Regions from separate parts of the Homo sapiens genome. Here regions 1, 3, 4 and 5 are each linked to region 2. The links come from fine-mapping of genetic effects on gene expression. A gene starts in region 2. Each other region holds a variant in brackets. All regions are shown on one strand. Distances are between the middles of the regions. Region 1 overlaps CLNK (cytokine dependent hematopoietic cell linker). Region 2 holds the start of ZNF518B (zinc finger protein 518B). Region 3 has its middle 41 kb from the start of ZNF518B. Region 4 has its middle 31 kb from the start of ZNF518B. Region 5 overlaps CLNK (cytokine dependent hematopoietic cell linker).

What was found. PIP is the estimated chance that this variant, and not a neighbour inherited with it, causes the effect.
Region 1: its variant is the best candidate, but not a certain one, in a credible set for the expression of ZNF518B in whole blood (TOPMed, PIP 0.59).
Region 3: its variant is the best candidate, but not a certain one, in a credible set for the expression of ZNF518B in whole blood (INTERVAL, PIP 0.56).
Region 4: its variant is the best candidate, but not a certain one, in a credible set for the expression of ZNF518B in pituitary (GTEx, PIP 0.54).
Region 5: its variant is the best candidate, but not a certain one, in a credible set for the expression of ZNF518B in visceral fat (GTEx, PIP 0.90).

What each region holds. Positions count from the first base shown.
Region 1 is chr4:10,482,057-10,487,143 of GRCh38, forward strand. CLNK (cytokine dependent hematopoietic cell linker) reads right to left here. Exons shown (of 19, transcript NM_052964.4): 19 at 4,339-5,087. Among named protein-coding and RNA genes, the nearest start is that of ZNF518B, 27 kb to the left of the region's middle. The variant G/A (reference allele first, on the strand shown) is at 2,531.
Region 2 is chr4:10,455,292-10,460,397 of GRCh38, forward strand. ZNF518B (zinc finger protein 518B) reads right to left here and starts at 2,135. Exons shown (of 3, transcript NM_053042.3): 1 at 2,026-2,135. RefSeq lists enhancers at 1,201-1,260, 1,243-2,058, 1,321-1,480 and a silencer at 1,611-2,250.
Region 3 is chr4:10,414,201-10,419,306 of GRCh38, forward strand. No RefSeq gene overlaps it. Among named protein-coding and RNA genes, the nearest start is that of ZNF518B, 41 kb to the right of the region's middle. The variant T/A (reference allele first, on the strand shown) is at 2,965.
Region 4 is chr4:10,423,842-10,428,947 of GRCh38, forward strand. No RefSeq gene overlaps it. Among named protein-coding and RNA genes, the nearest start is that of ZNF518B, 31 kb to the right of the region's middle. The variant G/T (reference allele first, on the strand shown) is at 3,087.
Region 5 is chr4:10,498,061-10,503,166 of GRCh38, forward strand. It overlaps CLNK (cytokine dependent hematopoietic cell linker), which reads right to left. Exons shown (of 19, transcript NM_052964.4): 18 at 3,196-3,351. All of the region lies in intron 2 of LOC105374482 (a long non-coding RNA gene), which reads left to right. Among named protein-coding and RNA genes, the nearest start is that of ZNF518B, 43 kb to the left of the region's middle. The variant A/G (reference allele first, on the strand shown) is at 2,650.

The DNA.
Region 1 (5,087 bases), 27 kb after region 2:
TATTACAGTGGGTGCATACATTTTGTATTTTACTAAATACTGCTAAATTGCTTTCCAAAATGCTATACCGATTGATGTTCCAACTAGTAGATGAAAATTTTATTTTGTACATCCTCATCAGCTTTTGACATTATCTGAATGTTTAATTTCACCCAGTGTGATGGGTGAAAGTGCTATGTAGTTGCTATTTTAATTAACGTTTCTCTGGCTGCTATTGTAGAAGTAGCTGTCAGAACCACATGAAGCCTGGAAATGCTGGGGAGTCTTCTGGGTAATCATCCTTTGCCAGGCCTCCCAATAAGCACTGAGGAATGTTCTAGGGTTCATTTGCTCATTTTACTTTCATCTTATGGACTGCCAGTACCAAAATCTGTATTAGTCCCAGTTCTCTAGAGGGACAGAACTAATGGAATAAATGTGTATACACACACACACAAATATATATATATATAAAGGGGAGTTTATTAAGTATTAACTCACATGATCACAAGGTCCTACAATAGGCTGTCTACAGGCTGAGGAGCAAGGGGAGCCAGTCCAAGTTCCAAAACTGAAGAACTTGGAGTCTGATGTTTGAGGGCAGGAAGCATCCAGCACGGGAGAAAGATGTAGGCTGGGAGGCTAGGTCAGTCTCTCTTTTCCTATTTTTCTGCCTGTTTATATTCTAGCCATGCTGGCAACTGATTAGATGGTGCCCACCCAAATTAACGGCGGTCCTGTCTTCCCCAGCCCACTGACTCAAATGTTAATCTCCTTTGGCCACACCCTCACAGACACACCCAGGATCAATACTTTGTATCCTTCAATCCAATCAAGTTGACACTCAGTATTAACCATCACAAATAGGTAGCCAGGAAGCCCATTTGCCATTCTCATGGGGGTTGCTCACTCTTCAGGCCTCTCAGCATTCAGGCTGAAATTCCCTCTGTGTGGGTCCGTTGTCTAGTGCTGAGGGGTTAGGGACCAGGGAAGCCAGACCCCATCTCCCACTCTGCTCCATTAGGCTCTATGTCATCCACTCCATTAGGCTCCATGTCATTCGCTCCATGACAGTGGCTATTGGCATCCCCTGTTAATTGCATCACCGACCAGCTGTAATAGAAACACAATAGCAAAGCTGGATATCTTAACTTACAGGCCTGTGTGATCTTTCTAATCAAGGATGCCATCGCTAACCCTTCTCTCTTGAGGCCCCTCTGGGAGAAGAAGCCTCTACACCAGCTCTGCTTGCTTCTCACCTGACTCGATATTAGTTTCTAAAAAGGTTTGCTAGGATTCATTTTGGTCTAGAGACTTTTTCGTGGGAAAGCTTCTCGTTTCTTTTAACAATGAAGGGCCATTCAAATTTTCTATTTCTTCTTGTATTGATTTTCATCTGTAAAGTTATCTATTTCGACTCCGCTGGAATAAAAGCACTTCTGATAGTTCTTTAATATCCCTTCAATGTCTGTAGTATCTGTTGTTTTGTCTTTTTTGTTAGTAATGTGTCCTTCTACTTAAGTTTTTGATTATTTTAGCTAGCTGTTTATTAATTTTCTTTTGTTTTGTTTTCTTTTTTTTTTTTTTAATGGAGTCTCGCTCTGTCACCCAGGCTGGAGTGGCGTGATCTCGGCTCACTGCAGCCTCCACCTCCAGGGATCAAGCAATTGTCCTGCCTCAGCCTCCCAAGTAGCTGGGACTACAGGCACGTGCCACCATGCCCGGCTAATTTTTGTATTTTTAGTAGAGACGGGGTTTCACCAAGTTGGCCAGGCTGGTCTTGATCTCCTGAACTCATGTTCCGCCCGCCTTGGCCTCCCAAAGTGCCGGGATTACAATCGTGAGCCACTGCTCCCGGCCTATTAATTTTCTTAATTGTACTTAATTGTTATTAATTTTCTTAACTTACAGGAGTGCATAAGTTAAGACATTCCAGCTTTGTGAGTGTGTATGAATTACTTGTTTACAGCCTTTGCTCATACATATTAGGTTGTTTAATTGCCTTTTGACTTTGTCTAACTTTTGTAAACATTTTAAATTTTGGTGTAATGAATCTATCAATCCTTCCCTTGATGATTTAAGTTTTTGTCTTAAGAACTCTTTCCCTATCTCAAAGTCTTAAAAATTATTAGACAAAGATGTAAGACTCAATTTAATAGTTGCTTTTTGCTCTTAAGTATTTGATTCATGTAAAATATATTTTATATGATTTGAGGTAGAGACATAATTGTATTTTTTCTATATGGTGAGCCAGTTTAACCAGAACCACTTAATAAATTATCTGTCCTTTCTCTACAGATGCTGCTTCTATTGTATTCACTTACCCTTCAAACAGGTAGTCACTGCTTCATTCCCCATGGCCTAGAATAGTGCCCCTAAAACAGGAGTACCCAATAATGGGCAACATGCCTGTACTCCTGAAGTAGAGTGTTCAATCTTTTGGCTTACCTGGGCCACACTGGAAGAATCATCTTAGGCCACACGTAAAATACACTAATACTAATGATAGCTGATGAGCTTTAAAAAAAAATGGCAGGGCACGGTGGCTCAT[G/A]CCTGTAATCCCAGCACTTTGGGAGGCCAAGGCGGGTGGATCACGAGGTCAAGAGATTGAGACCATCCTGGCCAACATGGTGAAACCCTGTCTCTACTAAAAATACAAAAAAAATTAGCTGGGCACGGTGGTGGGCACCTGTAGTCCCAGCTACTTGGGAGCCTGAGGCAGGAGAATGGCGTGAACCCGGGATGCGGAGCTTGCAGTGAGCCGAGATCGCGCCACTGTACTCTAGCCTGGGTGACAGAGCGAGACTCAGTCTCACAAAAAATAAATAAAAATAAAAATAAAACAGCTTCATTGAGGTATAATTGGTATATTAAAAAACTGGACATATTTAATGTATCTAATTTAATGAGTTTCGAGATACACATACATCCATAACACCATCATCACACTCAAGGCAATAAACATATCTATCACCTCCAAACATTTCCTGCTGCCCCATCTCCCTTTTTGTGGTAAGAACACTTAACATGATTAACATGAAATCTACATTCTTAAAAAAATTTTAAGTAGGTAATACATTTTCGTTGACCATAGGCACAATGCTATACAGCAGCTCTCTAGTACTTATTCACCTAGTATAACTGAAACTTTATACCCATTGAACAACAACTCTCCATTTCCCTCTCCCCACAGCTCCTGGCAACAACTATTCTATTCTCTGTCCCTGTGAGTTTATTTCAGATTTCTCATATAAGTGGAGTCATGCAGTATTTGTCATTCTGTGCCTGGCTATGTCACTTAGCATGATGTCCTCCAGATTCATCCACCTTGTCACATATGCCAAGATTTCCTTCTTTATTGAGGCTGAATAATACTCCGTTGTATGTATATAACATATTTTGTTCATTCATTGATTCATTCATTTTTTTTTTCTTTTTTGAGACAGTGTCTTGCTCTGTCTCCCAGGCTGGGGTACAGTGGCATGATCTCAGTTCACTGCAACCTCCACCTCCCGAGCTCAAGTGATTCTCCTGTGTCGTCCTCCCGAGCAGCTGGGATCACAAGCACCCACCACCATGCCCAGCTGATTTTTTTTTTGTATTTTTAGTAGAGACGGGGTTTCACCATGTTGGCCAGGCTGGTTTCGAACTCCTGACCTCAAGTGATCTGCCCACCTTGGCCTCCCAAAGTGCTAGGATTACAGACCTGAGCCACCATCCCTGGCCCATTTATTCATTTTTGATGGACATTTAGGTTGTTTCCATATCTTGGAATAATTGTGAATAATGCTGCAATGAATATGGGTGTGCAGATATCTTTTCAAGATCCTGATTTCATTTATTTTGGATACATATACAGAAGTGGGATTGCTGAATATAATAGTTCCATTTTTAATTTTTTAAGGAAACCCAGTACTGTTTTCCATAGTGGCTGCACCATTTGGCATTCCCACCAACAATGTACAGGGTTTCCATTGGTCCACATTCTTGCCAACATTTGTTATCTTTTGTTTTTTGATAATGGCCAACAGGCATATGAAAAGGTGCTCAATTTCACTAATCATTGGGAAAAAGCAAATCAAAACCACAATGAGATATTAACTTACACATATTAAGATGGTTATTACATGTGTATCTTTCCGGCCAGGCTCTGAGCTCACAATCACAGGGATTGTGTCTTTTTTGTCTTTATCTCCAAAGTCTAGCATAATGCTCATATGTCAATAATTGTTCTGGTAATTTTATCCTAAATTTGCCCTAAATATAATTTCAAAAGAGCTTTAGGGGTAATAGGGCATGAAACAAAATTAAACTATGTTTTGAATTTCTTTCTTCAATACTCAGAGACAGAGAAAATTATAACATTCAATTACATATTTACTTTTATTTACATTAGTAAGGCTGTAAATTATGAATGTAAATGTGCTTAGCTAGAACAAATATTGCTCAGAATAAAAAAGATATACAAATATAATGCTAATATACAATATAGGCTATCATAAAAATTTGTATTTGTGTACACACATACATAATTGGCTACATTCGACAATGGGGTTCATTTGATTCCTCCGTAGTAATTAGAACAGGAGACTTAACTGATTACAGCCATGATGCGGTTACTTAAAAACACACACACACACACGCACACAGGCACAGGCACACACATGCACACCCCACATAAATAAGTTTGGGAAAATTTTAAATTTTCTCACTTAGGACTTTTCAAAGCCATCTCAAAGGAGCTTCCTCAAAACATTTAATGTTGGCATCACCCCACAAGTACTCAGAAATAAGTGTTAAAATAGAAATCCAATCCAGTAATGGGAAACTGACTTAGATTATCTTATTTGTTTGTATATTTATTTGTCATCTATCTCTCTTATTCACTGCTCTATTTTCAACATCTACAATAGTGCTTAGTAATGAATACACATGCAGTACACAAAGGTGCTAACACAATATATGACTAATGATGAGGGCTATGCACATTTATACAGAATGAGAATTATTTAGTCCAAAAAATATCTGGAAAGCATAAATGCTGTAATTGGATAAAGCTAAAATTCTATTACTCTATTGAAATCAGATATCAAGTGATACTTTTAAAC
Region 2 (5,106 bases):
CTCCAAGGATGAATCCTGGAAATTGCAGTTAGCTGAGTTTGCATAACAAAGAAAATGCAGTAGACAGCAGGCAGTTTGAGAACAATCATGATTGGGGAAACCCTCCCTGGTAAGGATCTTGTTTATCATGATCAATAGCGAAGGGTTTGGCCAAGGAAGGCACTCAATAAGGTTCGTACTGGTTGAAAGAATGAGTGAATGAATGAATGAAAGAGCAGGCTTCACAGAGACAAAAATAAAATGTTCTTTGTTCTTCCTTTTGCACAAAAACTGGCCCCGATGCCCTTACTTAAAGGCAAATAAATCTCTAGAGATCTAAATGGATTTTTTTAATTGCCATTTTGCATTTTTAAGATCTTCAGATCGGGTATAATACATCAGAAAGGAGTCCCAATAAATAAAGGAATGCCATCCTTTGTCTGCTCTTTTCAAATTGCATTTGCAATGAATGTTATCAGCATAGCAAACTGTCTACGCAAAAAAGTGTTATTTTTGAAGGCTAAATTTGATCCAAGATGAAAGTAACTTTTAAAAATTGCATCCTAGTTAAAGATATCAATATCACACAATTTTAAAAAAGAACTATTTGTATTCTACTCAAAGAGACAACAGTATATAACATTGGTTTCTAAAACAATATTTTCTGAACCCTTGGCTGTGTACTGACATCATATGCTGGGCTGAACTTTGCATATGTGACTCAAGAGAGAGAAAAGAGATGTATTCCCATCCTCAGTCTCTGCTCTACTGTAGAAGAGTACTGCAAGCTTCTAGAGACCCAGGTTTGTCTTAATTCTTGGTGATTTCAAGTCTAAACTTAAGATGGTTTAAAGAGTCTAACACAACATTAGAGTTTAGCTACGTAGATTTGTACTTTTAAATAGGACATAATGCTCTGTAGTTTTTTTTTTTAATGTTACGTTGATAAATCGTTCATTATTACAATTTTTAAAGTCAGAGGTATTGTAACGGGATACATTAACTACCCAACTTATAAAGACTTAAGTGTTTTCTCCCGTTCGCTCTTTTGGCTTTTCCTTTCTGGTTAAGAAACTTTCATTCTTTTGAACCCTGCAATTTCTTGGCTTTACAGAGCCCCAAACCCCAAAGACACCAAGATAAGACGGGCAGGCCGGTATGGGGAGGTCCCACAATGACATCAGCATTTGGAACAATTCAAACCTTCACCATCTCTTCTCAACCTCCTATGTCCTCGCCCCCCGTAAAAGATGCGCAGGACCTCGATGGACGAGCCCACCCCTGACCCTCTCAAGGAAAGACAATGCCAGGCTGGTTTTCGAGTTTATTGTCGGCACGCTCCCCCGATGGCAGGCAGCATCCGAGGCGAGCGCGCCTGAGCCTGGGCGCTCGGAGGACGAGGCCAGGTGCATCGGGCGCATCGTCGTCTCCCAGGCGCGTCCCGCTCGCCGCGAGGGAAGGCCGGGGTTCTTCCAACCGAAGAAAACCAAAACCGTCAACGCTCAGCTCCGAGGCCCGCAGGAGGCTTTAAAAATGGCCTCCTGACGACACTTCCTGCTCGGCGCGGACGGTAGGAGCCCTCGGAGGAGGCATCCTTCATAACGCTGGGGGCGGGGAGCGCAGGCCGGGCCAGCGGCGCCACACGAACGGCCCCGCGGGACGCTGCCACCCCCGCCTCGGTCGCCCCGGCGCGTCGGCCGAGTCCGCGGGGTCGCGGCGCACAAAGGCGAGCTGGGGGCGCCGGGCCGGACCCCGACCCTAGGCCAGGCCCGCGTACCTGCTCAACGCGCGCCAAGCCGCGGCCCGGGCCCCCACCCCAGCCGGTGCCCCACGCCCACCAGCCGGAGCCCGCGTTCGGCCTACCCGGTGCCACTTGCCACGACGCCAGCCCTCAGCGCGGGCACGCGGGGCCGCGGCCGCTCGACCCGCCCCGGCCTGGCCCCGTCAGGCCCCCGCCCCGCGCGCCCCCACGACCCGGCCGCAGCTGGCGCTTCGGTCACGTACACGCGGATCCGGGGGCCCTCGCCCTCCCGCTCAGCTACTTACCCGGCAGGCCGGATTCGGGTGCCAGGTCCCGGCGAAGGGGCGTCTACACCGCCGGCCGCAGACCGCCGGCGCCGCGCCCGCTGTAGGTCCCTACCCGGGGGGCGGAGCCCGCGCCAGCCCCGCGCGTGCGCAATGTGAAGCGGCGGCGCGGCTCCAGCGAGGCCGGCGCCTGAGGTCTCTAAGGCTGCGCCCGCCCCCGCCGGGCTTCTAAGCTGTCCAGAGCGGGGAGCCTCAGACCCAGCCGAGCCCCACTTCTGGGCTTAGAGCTTGACCCAACACGTTCGCACCGTAGCGAGCGAGGTCCACATTTAGCCATGCCGCAGGCAAAAGAAGGATTCGGCTTCGGTCCTGGCCCAGTCTGCCATCCCGGGGCGCCTGCCTTGTACCGGGTCCCGCGGAGGGCGGCCTTGGCGCCTGCCTCCCTGGAGCCTGCAGTCCTGCAGTGGGTGAGTGAAAGCGAGAGAAGAGGAGCTCAGGTCCTCAGCCTCCAAACTCGTCTTCTTGGAGAGCTTCAGTGAAGGAGATGGCCTTGAAGTCCTGGGTACAAATCCTGACTCTCCCTACTCCTTTACATCTTAGCTGCTGGACCTTGGCGAGAAAGTCCCCTGACCTCTCTCAGTGTCTTCATTTCTGAAGACGGGGAAGGTCGTATGTGAGGCGCAAAGCCTCCTCTAGCAGTTGGGCGTTGCGAGGGTCAGAGGGGACAATGACTGTGGGAGTCTGGAGAGGGTGTGAGCTCATTTAATGCCAGAGTTTCTTTCCTGCCTCCTGGACTTCGGTGCTATTTTGGGCGAGCCAACTGCCCTCTAGATACACCTGCATCTACGGTCCGGAAGGAAGACATATTTAGAATAGAGCCTCTAAGAGGAAAGAAGAAGACCATATTGCCAGGTCCCGCACAATCAGTGACTCCCCACAAAGTGAAACAGCTCTCCAGCAGGGGCAGGTTGAGGCATGGGAGCAGCGTCACTGGGAAGTACAGTTTCTTCGGGATGAACAGCTAAAGTTTATTTCAAAGCTCTGGAGGCGGGGGCGGGGCAAGGCTGGTTTCCATCACCTTCCTGTTGGCGGCCAAAGGTCGGCGTGCACGGACAGCGGCCAGTATGCTGCACGGAGGAGATGTGGGCCTGGGCAGTACTGCCACACGGAGAAGCGGAGTTGAAGAAGACAGGCTCAGCCACAAGTCCAGCAGCTGGGCAAAACCTCCACCACTAAAGTATCAGGAGCTGGGCAGAGAAAATAGCAGCCCAGAGAGCAAATCCTTCTTCCTGCCCTAGGCTGCAGTGCTCCTAACCTCGGTCCTGATCAGGGAGCTGCTAGGGTCCTGGTTTTCTATCTCCTAGGGCTCAGAAAAGCTAAGGAACCTCTTCTCAGAAAAACACATTTATGTGCAGATAGCACCTATCAGAGAGAATATGCCAGAGAGTTCAAAGTCTCCCTCAAGAGTAGGGTCAAGTTGGGAAAGGCATTGAGAATCCAAACTAGGAGCCACTGCCTGAAAATCTCTAGTGGCAAACAGAGCCACATCAGGAAAAACTATTAATTCTAAGTATTGGAGAATCTGAGGTCTAGACATTAGAAAATTGTCCTAAACTTTATAAGGAGAGGCAACTCTCCTTATAACTTCTACTCATGCATCACAGTTCTGCCCTCTTAAGTCACACAGAATTGATGTAAGGTACCTGTGGGTCTCCTGGGAGTTTTTCTGAAGTGAGAACTGGTTATAAATCCCAGTTCGGCCACATAGAAGTTGTGAGCCTGTCTGAACCTCAGTTTCTCATGTAAAATTCAGTGAAAAATAGGTCCTTCCTCCCAAGGGGGTTGTCAACATTAAACAAGAGAAAGCAAGTCAGGACTTATCACAGTCCCTGGCAGATAGAAGTGACTGTTAACTTACTCTTCAGTAGCCCAAATTCAGGGAGATGAAATGCTTTGTGGAGTGTCTGGAAATGGAGTGTTTACAGCCTGAAAAAGGGTCAAGGAAAAATAGAAACTACTTCAGCAGAAACCTTTAAGGCTGATGTCCCTAAAAGTCTTTTGATGCTTGCAAATGTGAATCATCACACGTTCCCTACACGTCTGCCCTTCATGTCTTCTTCTCCACCCCCCAGCTTAGTTTGCCTAAATTCCGTGGATCACTTCTGTCACGAGTTGAATTATGTTTCCCAGAAAAATACGTTGAAGCGCTAATATCCCCCACCCCCAACTTATGGATATGACCTTATTTGGAAACACGGTCTTTACAGATGTAAGACAAGGTCATTAGGGTGGGCCCTTATCCAATGTGAATGGTGTCCTTACAAGGGACACCATTCTGTGTCTCTGTGAAGAGACGCAGAGAAGAAAATGCCATGAGAAGACATGGAGACACACAGGGAGAAGAAGCCATGGACAGAGGCCGAGATTGGAGTACACAGCCACAAACCAACGGCTGTTGGAAGATGGAAAAGGCAGGGAGGATCCTCCCCTAGAGGGTTCAGAGGGAGCATGGCCCTGTGGACCCCTTGATTTCAGACTTCTGAGCCGACAGAACTGTGAGACAATACATGTTTGTTTGGTACAGCCACCCTAAGAAATCAATGCACCCTCCTAGTTATGACTACCTAATGTAGGAGAGAAGAAGGAAGACATGAACCAGTCCTTGAGTATAAGATTTGGGAGCCAACGTTCATTCATTCACTCATGCATTCAACAAAACATGTATTGGGCTGGGCGCAGTAGCTCATGCCTGTAATCCTAGCACTTTGGGAGGCCGAGGCGGGCAGATCACCTGAGGTCAGGAGTTCAAGAACAGCCTGGCCAACATGGTGAAGCCCCGCCTCTACTAAAAATACAAAAATTAACTGGGCGTGGTGGCGGGCGCCTGTAATCCCAGCTACTCAGGAGGCTGAGGCACGAGAATTGCTTGAACCCAAGAGACGGAGGGTGTAGTGAGCCAAGAACGAGCCACTGCACTCCAGCATGGGCAACAGGGCAAGACTCTGTCTCAAAAAAAAAAAAAAAAAAACCAAAAAAAAAAAAACCGACCATGTATGAATGCCCATTCAGTGCAGGCACAGGCTGGTGCTGAGGCTAGAGGAA
Region 3 (5,106 bases), 41 kb before region 2:
TGTCTCACTCTTCTCCATCTGAGCTCCCACCATCCTCATTCATACACTCTCCTTCCTGGGTTACCATTAGATCTTACTAGTCTTTTTGTCTCTGATCTTGTTACTCTCATGTTACTGTGGTGTGAGACCAAAGAGAATAAATTTACATAAAACACATCTGGCCATGGCATGTATCTGTTTAAACGTCTTCTGAGATCCTGTTACCCCAGGATAACATTCAGTCTCTTCACATGATACATAAAATGTTTCATGTGGCCTGGCGTGGTGGCTCATGCCTGTAATCCCAGTATTTTGGGAGGCCGAGGCGGGTGGATCGCCTGAGGTCAGGAGTTTGAGACCAGCCTGGCCAACATGGTGAAACCCCGTCTCTACTAAAAATACAAAAATTAGCTGGGTGTAGTGGTGGGCGCCTGTAATCCCAGCTAGAATCACTTGAACCCGGAAGGCAGAGGTTGCAGTGAGCCGAGACTGTGCCATTGCACTCCAGCCTGGGCAACAAGAGCGAAACTCCGTCTCAAAAAAAAAAAAAGTTTCATGTATCTTTAGCTGCTCTCTGCTTCCCACATTACCATCTGGAAACAGCACTCTTTGTAGTCATTACCCACTAGTGATATGCTGTCACCCACATTTGGTACCTTTGCTCATCACTTTGGGAGAGCAGTGTAGCTTGTTGCTATTAAAAAATGAGGCTTTAGAATCATACTGACCTGAGTTCAAATCCTCATTCTGATGTGTACCACCTACTGCTTGGGCAAGCTACTTAACTTTTACAGCCTTATTGTTAGATTTGAAAAATAGGGATGCTGATAGTAGCGGTTTCATTGAGCACAGTATCATCTGAGTTAAGATTGCATGAAAAGCACTTAAGACAGTATCAGAAGGCAGCAAGGCCTGGTAGATGTTGGACATTTTTTTGTTGTTTGTATTTCCTTTGCCTAGAATGCTCTTATTGCTGACTTTGTCCCACTATTCATTTTGCTGGCTCACTGCTGCACAACCTCTGACTTGGCTCAGATATCATCTCTTCCAAAGGCATCCTTGGGTGGGGGAGTCTGCATCTGTTACCCTAGGCTCATCACTCTCATTGCTCTTAGCATATGTATCAGACTTACCTTCTCATCTATTCTGAGTTCCTTGAGGGCCATGTCATAATGTTTGCATCTCCATTTCCTAACAATTTTTGGATTGAATTGAATAGAAATGTTATCTTCCTCCTCAGCCTCCAGTGGGGAGCAGGAGAGAACTAAGCAGCAACCATGTTAATTTCCTTGAATTCTTTTGCATGCTGTTTTTCATTATTTTTCTCAATACACATAATTTAAAGCCATTCTACCTGTCTGCTTTTATCCTGTTAGTCTCTGACAGGTGAGATATTAGGAGAGACAGGATGTGTGAATACAAGTAAGTAGAAACAATTTGACAAACGTTCTCTTCCTTCCAAGAAAAGCATCTCTTTTCCTGTTTTTCTCTGGCCTTGGAATGATGGATTGTAAAAATCGAATCAACATCTCCTTTTATTACAACACATTAGCTAGGCCCAGCCGAAGATTTATAGCTTTCTGTAAAAACAGAGTCTAGGGGAATGTTAAATACTCAGTTTTTACCATCCTTTCTGCTTTTCACCCCCACCCCAATCCTGTGGGAATAGATGGTCAATACATGGTGCTTAGGTAGTTACAAAGTCTAGGAGTTACTGAGTCGGAACTAGATGCCCAGGAGAAAAGGCTGGTTAGCTTAGTTTGTTTCATGAGTCAGACTTCCAAAAGTGGTTTGGTTATTATTCTATCTTTTAAATATGGGGTCTCGTTATATTGCCCAGGCTGGTCTCAAACTCCTGGGCTCAAGTGATTCTTTCACCTCAACCTCATGAGCAGCTGCAATTACAAGTGTGAGCCACTGCACCTGGCTAGCTTGGTTTATATGAAAAAGCAGTGAGTTTGGAAATGGTTGAATCTGTCCTTTTTATAGGCAGAGCAACCAGGACTCAAGAAGTTTAACATTCACTAGCTGGGTGATCCTGGGGAGATTATTTTCCTTAAGTGCTATTGAAAGGAGAAAATCATATAAGGTCCATGTAACACTTATCAGAGTGCTGGCGCACAGGAGCACCTAACACTTTTTTTTGTGTACACCTAGTAACTGAAAAGAGTGGTCCTAACATGTCACTGCCAGTTCCCCTTTTAGGTTTTATTTCCCGTAAGGTTTTATTACCCGCATTCCTCACATTTTTACATGGAGAAGGGACTTTCTGTTCTACTATCCAGAAGTATATGAAGAGCACTTCCAGCTCTCTTCCTTGTGAACTTTGCTTTGGCTCAGAGGAGGAGTAAAGGGGTCCCATCCTGTTTGGGTAATGAGCTGAGCCTGTGTGGCTGCTCACCAGGGTGATCATTCTTTTGTGGGTTCCCCCAACCCACAGGATGTGTGTTGTCTCCTACTCCCTTTTGTGGGGCACTAACAGGGCCCCGCTGATTCTGTAAAGAAGACTTTGATGTCCTGCAGGCTCAGTGACTGGATGGCAGCTATCTATAGCATGTGAAATCTCAAGAGGCTTATTATGACCACATGTGTCAACTGTGTTCTCCAATCTAGTTGCCAGAAATGAAATTAAGGTATTTAACTCCGTCTGACTTCTGTGTTATTCCTTGGTTGATTTCCTAATTTGGGAGTAGACAGAAAAGTTGAAGGCGCTAGGCCCATTGCTCATGCCTGTAATCCCAGCACTTGGGGAGACTGAGATGGCAGGATCACTTGAGCTCAGGAAGTCCAGACCAGCCTAGACAACATAATGTAGACCCCATCTCCACACACACACACACACACACACACACACTCACGTGCACGTGCAAAAAATTGGCCAGGCATGGCTGTGCATGTCTGTAGTCCCAGCTACTCAAAAGGCTGAGGTAGGGGGTTTGCCTGAGCCCAGGAAGTCGAGGCTGCAGTAAGCCATGATCACACCAC[T/A]GCATTCTAGCCTGGGTGACAGAACACGAGTTAAGAAAAAAAAAAAATGTTGAAGGCTAATGTATTAGTCCATTCTCACGCTGCTATGAAGAAACGAAGAAATACCCAAGACTGGGATAATTTATAAAGGAAAGAGGTTTAATTGACTCACAGTTCTGCAGGGCTAGAGAGGCCTCAGGAAACTTACAATCATGGCAGAAAGGGACACAAACACATCCTTCCTCACATGGCAGCAGCAAAGAGAAGAGACAAGAGGGGTGAAAAGCCCCTTATAAAACCATCAGATCTCATGAGAACTCACTATCATGAGAACAGCATGGCGGTAACTGCCCCCATGATTCAATTACCTCCCACTGGATCCCTCTTATGACACATGAGAATTATGGGAACTATAAGATTAAATTTGGGTGGGGACACAGCCAAACCGTATCAGCTAACTAATGTTAATATCTTGTAAGATCTTGATCCATTGGCCAGATGTGTTGAGAGAGAAATTCTGGTGGCTGGGAACACAACTAATAAGGAGTCAGATCAAGGCTTTGGGCCTTGCCAGGGCCCCAAACCTCAAATATTAGTACAAGAGCAGTTGGTGGATCATGGAAGCATCTTTCTCCATTGCTCATGATGAACAACTGTTTCTACTTGGTCAAGCTGATTAGGACTTAGGAAGCAGGGCCCTGTGATGCTCTAGCACTGACCTGAACTGACTCGGGCATGTGTAGTCATTCCGTTGGCAAAGGACGGCTCAGGCGAAAATAATAGGAAAAGTGTGTTTGAGCTTTGGTTAAGGCTCCATTCCAAAGAGGCAAATCTTTCCAGTGCGGCTGACTTGACTTTGGTGGATGTTGCTATTTTTCTTGTTTCTTAGCCAAATTTGCAGGCCAGGACTTTAATCTGCAAAGACAGCTGTATTTCTTGCGGGGCTCAAGGCATTCCTGTAGGCTTCTTGCAAGTCATATGAAGTTAGCCTCAGACCACCTGCCTCAAATTCAGTTACTACTTGTGCTGTTTACAGATAGCATCCAGAGCCAAGTTAGATAGCTAAGAAAATAAGCAAATGAAATGCAAGTACTTTGTTTAGATCTTAATTTGAACAATACATTTTGAGACAATTAGGGATATTTGAATATAGATTGGGTATTAGACAATAACAAAGAGTTATTCATAATTTTGGGGGTATAATATTTTGATTTATGTAAGAAAAATATCTTTTTTAAAGGGCTGGCTACTGAATTATGTAGGAATGACATGTTTGCCATTAATTTTAAGGAACTAATGCTTTGAGTATCAAATCTCTAAATCAATGTAAAATATTAGGAGGCCCACTAGGAACATGTGTATAAACTATATTTTGTTGGGTATAATAGTATCAATAGTAACAACAGGAATGGTATCAATAATACAATCATTAAATGGAATTCAGGATGGTTCAATGATTTACTTTATTAATAGCCCCAAGGAGGAAAAAACTCCCATATAATCATTACAATGTGAAAGACATTTGAAAAAAAAACTCAACAACCCTTCCCAAAAAGTAATTATCAGATTGTAGATGTTAAAGTTTATTATAAAGTTCAATAATTGAGAATGTAATACAGGAAAAGAAAATAACTGTATAGAATAGTACGTTTACCTGCAGACCTAAGTACATATGGGAATATGGATTTTAATATCTAGCAAGTTATATATGTTTCTAATCAGATTCCTCCACCCAAAGCAATAAGCCTGGATTAGAGTGAAATACCAAAAGTAATCTGATACTTACTAGTACTAACACTAGATTTGATATTAGTAGTGCTATTTTAATTTTTTTTTTTAGAGATGTGTCTTGGTATACTGCCCAGGCCAGTGTCAAACCCCTAGGCTCAAGCAATCCTACCTTCTCAGCCTTCTGAATAACTAGTAGTAGTTAATATTGTTCTGAATGTGCTAGTCAAAGCAGTTAAATAGAAGAAAAAAATAGGTATAAGAAGAACTTGGTATGTTATTTGCAATAATTATTTCTAAATATGTATACTAATTTTCTATGAATTATTTTAGTATCTACTAATACTACATAAATGTGACAAGTTGGAACTTTAATATATAGAAACTAGTAGCATTTTTTAAAAAAAGATCATTGTTTAAAAAAAAACAATGATC
Region 4 (5,106 bases), 31 kb before region 2:
GTATTCCTAGGTATTTTATTCTCTTTGTAGCAATTGTGAATGGATGTTCACTCATGATTTAGCTCTCTATTATTGGTGTACAGGAATGCTTGTGATTTTTGCACAGTGATTTTGTATCCTGAGACTGTGCTAAAGTTGCTTATCAGCTTAAGGAGATTTTGGGCTGAGACAATGGGGTTTTCTAAATATACAATCATGTCATCTGCAAACAGAGACAATTTGACTTCCTCTCTTCTTATTTGAATACCCTTTATTTGTTTCTCTTGCCTGACTGCCCTGGCCAGAACTTCCAATACTATGTTGAATAGGAGTGGTGAGAGAGGGCATCCTTGTCTTGTGCCGGTTTTCAAAGGAAATGCTTCCAGCTTTTGTCCACTCAGTATGATTTTGGCTGCAAGTTTGTCATAAACAGCTCTTATTATTTTTAGATATGTTCCATCAATACCTAGTTTATTGAGAGTTTTTAGCATGAAGGGGTGTTGAATTTTATTGAAGGCCTTTTCTGCATCTATTGAGATAATCATGTGGTTTTTGTCATTGGTTCTGTTTATGTGATGGATTACATTGATTGATTTGCATATGTTGAACTAGCCTTGCATCCCAGGAATGAAGACTGCTTGATCGTGATGGCTAAGCTTTATGATGTGCTGCTGGATTCAGTTTGCCAGTATTTTATTGAGGATTTTCTCATTGATGTTCATTAGGGACATTGGCCTGAAATTTTCTTTTTTTTGTTGTGTCTCTACCATGTTTTGGTATCAGGATAATACCTCATAAAATGAGTTAGGGAGGAGTCCCTCTTTTTCTATTGTTTGAAATAGTTTCAGAAGGAATGGTACCAGCTCCTCTTTTTACCTCTGGTAGAATTTGGCTGTGAATCCATCTCGTCCTGGGCTTTTTTTTTTTTTTGGTTGGTAGGCTGTTAATTTCTGCCTCAATTTCAGAACTTGTTATTGGTCTATTCAGGGATTCAGCTTCTTCCTGGTTTAGTCTTGAGAGGGTGACTGTGTCCAGGAATTTATCCATTTCTTCTAGATTTTCTAGTTTATTTGCATAGAGGTGTTTATAGTATTCTCTGATGATAGTTTGTATTTCTGTGGGATCAGTGGTGATATCCCCTTTATCATTTTTTATTGTGTCTGTTTGATTCTTCTCTCTTTTCTTCTTTATTAGTCTGGCTAGTGGTCTACCTATTTTGTTAATCCTCAAAAAACTAGCTTCTGGATTCATTGATTTTTTTGAAGGGTTTTTCATTTCTCTATCTCCTTCAGTTCTGCTCTGATCTTAAGTTATTTCTTGTCTTCTGCTAGCTTTTGAATGCATTTGCTCTTGCTTCTCTAGTTCTTTTAATTGTGATGTTAGGGTGTCGATTTTAGATATATCCTGCTTTCTCCTGTGGACATTTAGTGCTACAAACTTCCCTCTAAATACTGCTTAGCTGTGTCCCAGAAATTCTGGCACTTTGTGTCTTTGTTCTCATTGATTTCAAATAACTTATTTATTTCTGCCTTAATTTCGTTATTTACCCAGTAGTCATCCAGGAGTAGGTTGTTCAGTTTCCATGTAGTTGTGCAGTTTTGAGGGAGTTTCTTAATCCTGAGTTCTAATTTGATTGCCTTGTGGTCTGAGAGACTGTTTGTTATGATTTCCATTCTTCTGCATTTGCTGAGGAGTGTTTTACATACAATTATGTGGTCAATTTTACAGTAAGTGTGATGTGGTGCTGAGAAGAATGTATATACTGTTGATTTGGGGTGGCGAGTTCTGTAGAAGTTTATTGGGTCCACTTGGTCCAGAGCTGAGTTCAAGTCCTGAATATCCTTGTTAATTTTCTGTCTCGATCTGTCTAATATTGACAGTGGGGTGTTAAAGTCTCCCACTATTATTGTGTGGGAGTCTGAGTCTCTTTGTAGGTCTCTAAGAACTTGCTTTATGAATCTGGGTGCTCCTGTATTGGGTACATATATATTTAGGATAGTTAGCTCTTCTTGTTGCATTGATCCCTTTACCATTATGTAATGCCCTTGTCTTTTTCGATCTTTGTTGGTTTAAAGTCTGTTTTATCAGAGACTAGGATTGCAAACGCTGTTTTGTTTTTTTGTTTGTTTTGCTTTTCCTTTGCTTGGTAAATATTTGTCCATCCCTTTATTTTGAACCTATGTGTGTTTTTGCATGTGAGTTGGGTCTCTTGCATACAGCACACTGATGGGTCTTGACTCTATCCAATTTGCTAGTCTGTGTCTTTTAATTGGGGCATTTAGCCTATTTACATTTAAGGCTAATATTGTTATGTGTGAATTTGGTCTGTCATTATGATGCTAGCTGGTTATTTTACCCATTAGTTGATGCAGTTTCTTCATGGTGTTGAAGGTCTTTACACTTTGGTATGTTTTTGCAGTGGCTGTCACCGGTTTTTCCTTTCCATATTTAGTGCTTCCTTCAGGAGCTCTTGTAAGGCAGGCCTGGTGGTGACAAAAATCTCTCAGCATTTGCTTATCTGTAAGGGATTTTATTTCTCCTTCGTTTATGAAGCTTAGTTTGGGTGGATATGAAATTCTGGGTTGAAAATTCTTTAAGAATGTTGAATATTGGCCCCCACTCTCTTCTGGCTTGTAGGGTTTCTGCAGAGAGATCTGCTGTTAGTCTGATGGGCTTCCCTTCGTGGGTAATCCGACCTTTCTCTCTGGCTGCCCTTAACATTTTTTCCTTCATTTCAACCTTGGTGAATCTGAAGATTATACATCTTGGGGTTGCTCTTCTCGAGGAGTATCTTTATAGTGTTCTCTGTCTTTCCTGAATTTGAATGTTGGCCTGTCTTGCTAGGTTGGGGAAGTTCTCCTGGATAATATCCTGAAGGGTGTTTTCCAACTTGATTCCATTATCCCTGTCACTTTCAGGTACACCAATCAAAAATAGGTTTGGTCTTTTCATATAGTCCCATATTTCTTGGAGGTTTTGTTCATTCCTTTTCATTCATTTTTCTCCAATCTTGTTTTCACACTTTATTTCATTAAGTTGATCTTCAATATCTGATATCCTTTCTTCTGCTTGATCAATTCGGCTTTTGATACTTGTGTATGCTTCAT[G/T]AAGTTCTCATATTTTATTTTTCAGCTCCATCAAGTCATCTCTACCAGTCTTCTCTACACTGGTTGTTCTAGTTAGCAATTCCTCTAACCTTTTTTCAAGGTTCTTAGCTTCCTTGCATTGGGTTAGAACATGTTCCTTTAGCTCAGAGGAGTTTATTACCCACCTTCTGAAGCCTACTTCTGTCACTTCATCAAACTTATCCTCCATCCAGTTTTGTTCCCTTGCTGGCAAGGAGTTGTGATCCTTTGGAGGAGAAGAGGCTTTCTGGTTTTTGGAATTTTCAGGCTTTTTGTGCTGTTTTTTCCTCATCTTCGTGGATTTATCTACCTTTGGTCTTTGATGTTGGTGACCTTCAGATGGGGTTTCTGTGTGGATGTCCTTTTTGTTGATGTTGATGCTATTCCTTTCTGTTTGTTAGTTTTCCTTCTATCAGTCAGGCCCGTATGCTGCAGGTCTGGTGGAAGTCCACTCTAGACCCTGTTTGCCTGGGTATCACCAGCAGAGGCTGTAGAACAGCAAAGATTGCTACCTGTTCCTTTGGAAGCTTCATCCCAGAGGGACACCTGCCAGATGCCACCTCCCTGACTGGGAGGTGTCTCCCAGTCAGGAGGCACAGGGGTCAGGGACCCAATTGAGGAGGCAGTCTGTCCCTTAGCAGAGCTCAAGCACTGTGCTGGGAGATCCGCTGTTGTCTTCAGAGCCAGCAGGCAGGAATGTTTAAGTCTGCTGAAGCTGCACCCACAGCTGCCCCTTCCCCCAGGTGCTCTATCTCAGGGAGATGGGAGTTTTATCTATAAGCCCCTGACTGGGGCTGCTGCCTTTCTTTCAGAGATGCCCTGCCCAGAGAGGAGGAATGTAGAGAGGCAGTCTGGGTACAGTGGCTTTGCTGAGCTTCTGTGGGCTCCTCCCAGTTCGAACTTCTTGGTGGCTTTGTTTACACCGTGAGGGAGAAAACCGCCTACTCAAGCCTCAGTAATGCAGATGCCCCTCCCCCAACCAAGCTCGAGTGTCCCAGGTCGACTTCAGACTGCTGTGCTGGTAGCAAGAATTTCAAGTCAGTGGATCTTAGCTTGCTGGGCTCCGTGGGGTGGGATCCACTGAGCTAGACCACTTGACTCGACTCCCTGGCTTCAGCCTCCTTTCCAGGCGAGTGAATGGTTCTGTCTCACTGGCATTCTAGACACCACTGGGGTATGAAAAAATCTCCGGCAGCTAGCTCAGTGTCTGCCCATATGACCGCCTAGTTTTGTGCTTGAAACCCAGGGCCCTGGTGGCATAGGCACCCAAGGGAATCTCCTGGACTGCAGCTTGTGAAAACCGTGGGAAAAGCATAGTATCTGGGCCAGAGTGCACTGTTCCTCACAGCACAGTCCTTCACAGCTTCCCTTGGCTAGGAGAGAGTTCCCCAACCCTTTGTGCTTCCCAGGTGAGGTGACGCCCCCACCCTGCTTTGGCTTGCCCTCTGTGGGCGCACCCACTGTCTAACCAGTCCCAGTGAGATGAGCCGGGTACCTCAGTTGGAAATGCAGAAATCACCTGCCTTCTGCATTGATCTCGCTGGGAGCTGCAAACTGGTTCTGTTCCTATTTGGTCATCTTGCCAGCCCACATTATTATTATTATTATTTTTGAGATGGGTTCTTGCTCTGTCACCCAGGCTGGAGTACAGTGATGCCATCACAGCTCACTGCAGACTCCACCTCCTGGGCTCAAACAATCCTCCCACCTCAGCCTCCTGAGTAGGTCGGACGACAGGCATGCACCACCATGCCCTGCTAATTTTTTCTATTTTTATTTTTATTTTTTTGTAGAAACGAGGTTTAACTATGTTGCCCAGGCTGGTCTTGAACTCCTGAGCTTAAGCAATCCACCCACTGCAGCCTCCCAAAATGCTCAGATTACAGGAGTGAGCCACTGCACCCAGCCAATTTTTTATTATTTGAAGGAGGGTCCAAAATTTGTGTAAATGTCCACCTCACCTCAAAAAACTAGTTCTGCCCCTGGCTGTGGTCTTAAGTAG
Region 5 (5,106 bases), 43 kb after region 2:
GGCGTATGCCTGTAATCCCAGCTACTCGGGAGGCTGAGGCAGGAGAATCGCTTGAACCCGGGAGGCAGAGGTTGTGGTGAGCCAAGATCACGCCATTGCATTCCAGCCTGGGCAACAAGAACGAGACTCCGTCTTAGAATAAATAAATAAGCTGGGTGCTGTGGCTCACGCCTGTAATCCCAGCACTCTGGGAGGCTGAGGCGGGCGAATCACGAGGTCAGGAGATCGAGACCATCCTGGCTAACACTGAAACCCCGTCTCTACTAAAAAAATACAAAAAAATTAGCCGGGCGTGGTGGTGGGCGCCTGTAGTCCCCGCTACTCGGGAGGCTGAGGCAGGAGGATGGCGTGAACCCTGCAGGCGGAGTTTGCAGTGAGCCGAGATCGCGCCACTGCACTCCAGCCTGGGTGACAGAGCAAGACTCCGTCTCAAAATAAAATAAAATAAATAAATAAGAATTATATAATGCTTTCCTAAAGATGAGAAATTCTATAAGCTGAGAGAAGATATAGAAGGATAAAGGGACACTGAACTGGAAAGTCCATTACCATAGGCATCTTAGGGCTACTATATCCTACTTATTAAAATGACTCAGGAATAGTAATGAAAATATAACTAAAATTTATTGTGGGCTTGATAGGTCCCAGGCACTGTTCTAAGTGTTTTACATTTATTAACTTGCCAATCCTCTCCACAAAATGAAGAACTGACCACTTCTGTCTTTCGTGTTAACGTAGCACTTTCTTAATGTGGTTGTACCTGGTAGATTTATGTATTAATCTATGGATTCACTCATGCACTTGTTCATGTCACAGTGTTCCCGGGCTGTAGCAAATGGTGGTGTGGGATATGATGAAGATTCTCTTCAAATAATCCGATCAAACTTTTATTCTTTAATTCATTGTACCCCCCCCCCCCCAACCCTTGTCCTTTTTCTCCTGTTTTCCTTTTTGCCTTTGTTAGATGCCCAGGCACGCCACAGTACCAGGCATTATCAGTACCAGCTCACATTCCTTTCCTTATTTGGAAAGAGGACTAACTTTTTAGCTCATTACAGACACCCCTTCCCCTTCCTCTCCACTTTCTTTTATATGCCTACTTTATCTAAAAAAAATCAAATGTTTAGCCAACTGGGATTAGTTTAGATTGTAAGACCTGACCCCAGCCAATGGGGAAAGGGGACAGGGGCAGGACTTGTGTCAGGAATAAAGGCTCTCGTGCCCCTTTGTTCAGGTATGCTCTCATTGCGACTGTCCAAGGAGGCACCCCTCTGTGCAGAACTAAAATTGCTTTGCTAAGAATCCTTTGTTCGAGTGTTCAATTTCCTTAGGATTTTGAGCGTTATTCCTAACAGTGGTGAACTGACCTCATGGTCGCCTCACAGGTGCTGACTATTCCTCTCCGAGTCTCAAAAAAGTGCTCTGGTCAGACACGGGATTTAAGCTGGAATCTTTATGCAGCCTGCGCATCGATTTCACACGTGTGCCTACCTGAAGCCTGTTGGCAGCCCTAGCAATGTGCCCTATTTTGTTATCTGTTGAAGAACAATCGGTATCTGTGTGAAAGTTCTGGTTTTATCCTGTATTAGTTTGTCAAGGCTACCGTAACTAAGCACTACAGACAAGGTGGCTTAAACAACAGAAATGTCTTTCTTCGCAGTTCTCGAGGCTGAAGTCCCAAGGTCAAGGTGTTGGAAGGCTGCTTTCTCCCACGACCCCTCTCCTTGGTTTGCAGATGGTCGACCCTTCCCAGTGTCCTCACATGGTCGCCCCTCTGTGTGTGCCTGTGTCCTAATCTCCTCTTGTCATAAGAACATCTCTCATATTGGATTAGGACTCATCCCAATAACCTTGTTTAACCTTAATTACCTCTTTCAAAGCCCTATCTTCAAATACAGTCACATTCTGGGCTACTGAGGGTTAGGACTTCAACGTGTGGGTTTTTTGGAATGAGGGAGGCACGATTCAGCCTATAACAATGCACACCCCCAGATAAAACTGAGACCTGGAGATGTTAAACAGGAATCATTAAATTATTGAAGTCTAGGCTTTAAAAGAACATTTACATTTGAGGAAATTGAAGCCCAGAGAAGTTAAGTCACTGGACTGAGCTCACATCCTTAGAAATGGTGGCTCATAACTAACTTCGTTCCTTCCTTCCTTTACCCCTTCCTTCATCAACAGAAGAGTTGCAAGAGAAGCCTCTCCTTCCCCCTTCCGTTACTGCCTGTGTGTCTTTGGCCATTTATTTAATTTTCTGAGCCCCAGTTTTCCTACATCTAAGATAGGAAAAATCATGACACCAAAGAGTTGTTGAGGATCAAAATAAGATACTGCTGGCTGGGCACAGTGGCTCACGCCTGTAATCCCAGCACTTTGGGAGGCCAAGGCAGGCAGATCATCTGAAGTCAGTAGTTCGAGACCAGCCTGACCAACATGGTGAAACCCCATCACTACTAAAATATAAAAATTAGCCGGGTTTGGTGGGGCATGCCTGTAATTCCCGCTACTCAGGAGGCTGAGGCAGGAGAATCACTTGAACCTGGGAGGAGGAGGTTGCAGTGAGCCGAGATCTGTACTCTGGCCTGGGTGACAGAGTGCGTCTCTGTCTCAAAAAAAAAAAAAATGCAGATAGACTAGGCCTGGCAT[A/G]TACATAGTCAGTGAAAATTTATCCTTTCTTGTGGATTGATTTATGTTATTCACGAATATTTTAATTGATTCACTCTTTCGCCTCCATCAGCAGATCTGTACTGAGGACAGGCATGCCCAACATAGCCCTAATGCTGTGGCTGGGTTCACATTCATTTTGGGGACACGAGTCTATAGATAAGGAATTCTGACAGACATCAGAAATGTCTGCAGTGGCATTTCAGTGCTGAGGAGGGAAAGGAATTTGGCATTAGTGTATGCTCCGCTGGAAGCTTCCTGGGAGGCAGAGTTTAGATGTGTCTTGTAGAATGAGTTTTCTTTAACAGGCAACGCAGGGAATGGGGGTGCATGAAATGGTCAGAACTGGTCGCTGGCCTGGTAGGCCAAAGTGTAAGATGTGCAGATATTTGTGGAAGGGGTGGGGAGGTCAGACTGCATCCCTCTCCTTCAGGGCGGCATCCTCTTCCTCCAGGGTGACATCCCCCAAACTCTTCCTTTATTTGTTGCGCTTAGCCTGGAACAGGGAGGCTGTTAAGTTATACCCACCTCATCTCCTCTGAGTCCTGTCCCCAGGGCAAACTGCTGATTCCTCTCCAGGAAGCGTATTTTTACATTGTAGACTTTGTTCTCATAAAACACAGCCAAAACATAGGGCTCTTCCTTGGATTTTGTGGAACAATCTCGGACCAAGAAACTACCATCCTGAAGCAAAAAGAGTAACAGTCATCTTTTCAGACACGCCAGCATTCTGCCCTTGTAATGGTGGCAACAATGATGTCTGCATGCATGAGATTCCCAGATGGATTTAGTTTTTGGTAAACCACTTTAATTCAGTAAGTTTTTACTGAGTGTCTGTATGCCTAAGGGTTCTTGTCACTTTCTGAGATGTGTACCAGTTGGATCTTGACACTCTCTTCTTGAAAGTCTTTCATTGAGGCCAGGTGCGGTGGCTCACCCCTGTAATCCCAGCACTTTGGGAGGCCAAGGCAGGCGGATCACCGGAGGTCAGGAGTTTGAAACCAGGCCTGCCAACACAGAAAAACCCCGTCTCTACTAAAATTACAAGAATTAGCCGGGCATGGTGGCGGGCGCCTGTAATCCCAGCTACTCAGGAGGCTGAGGCAGGAGAATCACTTGAACCCAGGAGGCAGAGATTGCAGTGAGCCAAGATCGTGCCACTGCACTTCAGCCTGGGCAACAGAGCAGGACTCTGGTTCCAAAACAAAAACAAAAAGAAAAAAGAAAATCTTTCATCATTTCCTACTGACCTGGGCATAGTGCTCATGAACTTAGCATGACCAACCTATCTTGCAGTTTGATCTCTCATTGCTCCTGCAGCTTTCTGCCTCTGGCTCCTGGCTCCAGCCAAGCCACCATTTCCCAAAGGCACCATCTGCTTTGGGGCTCCCAGATTTTGCATGATGTATTAGTCTGTTTTCACACTTCTATAAAGAAATACCTGAGACTGGGTAATTTATAAAGGAAAGAGGTTTAATTGACTCAGTTCCACATGGCTGGGGAAGCCTCAGGAAACTTATAATCAGGCGGAAGGCGAAGGGGAAGCAAGCTTGGACCTTCTCACATGGCAGCAGGAGAGAGCAGAGTGAGGAGTGAAGGGAGAGGAGCCCCTTATAAAACCATCCTATCTCATGAGAACTCACTCACTAGAACAGCATGGGGGAAACTGCCCCCAAGATCCAGGTCTCTCCCTAGACACGTGGGGATTATGGGGATTACAATTCAAGATGAGATCTGTGTAGGGTCACAGACAAACCATGCCACATGTGCTACTCCTTCCTCATGGAAAAGCTCTTCTCCTGCCCCCTTCTTGATGTATTCATCTCTCAATGTTCACATATTTCCTCTTCTGCTTGATGCTCGGGTATTATTCTAGAGATAGTGGGAGCCACAGCAGGCTTTGAGCAGAAAAAACTTTTACCTAATAAATTGGACTTCTGTGTGGAAAGATGTCTATGCAGAATTAGGGTTCCTGAAAGAGACATGGGGCTTTTAAGTCATGGATATCAAACTGAATGGAGAGGCCCTTTACGGGAGGAGGAATTGTAGCCTATGTTGAGGTGAGGGCCAGTATAGGGCAAGGAAGCAAAGACAGAAAAGGCCCGGAGATGCCTGAAAGATGACGGAAGACCAGGAGATTCAGAGTGACAGAAGCCAAGAGGTGGAGACTGAGGGTTTCCAAAAGCGGGTCAACAGCATTGAATGGTCCAAGAGCTGAGAACAGGACAATGATTAGAAATAATTTGTACACTCCAGAGAATAATTCAGAATGATACTAAGATCTGGTTGTAAAAGATTGAGAAATGGAGCAGTCCTCCTGAACGTGAACACATCTACCAGGCTTAGTTTTGTGGTTACATTGTGTTATTTATATAATGAAAAACACTGAAAAATCTGTAAGTGTAATTGTGTGTATTGTATAGATGGTTATAAGTGATC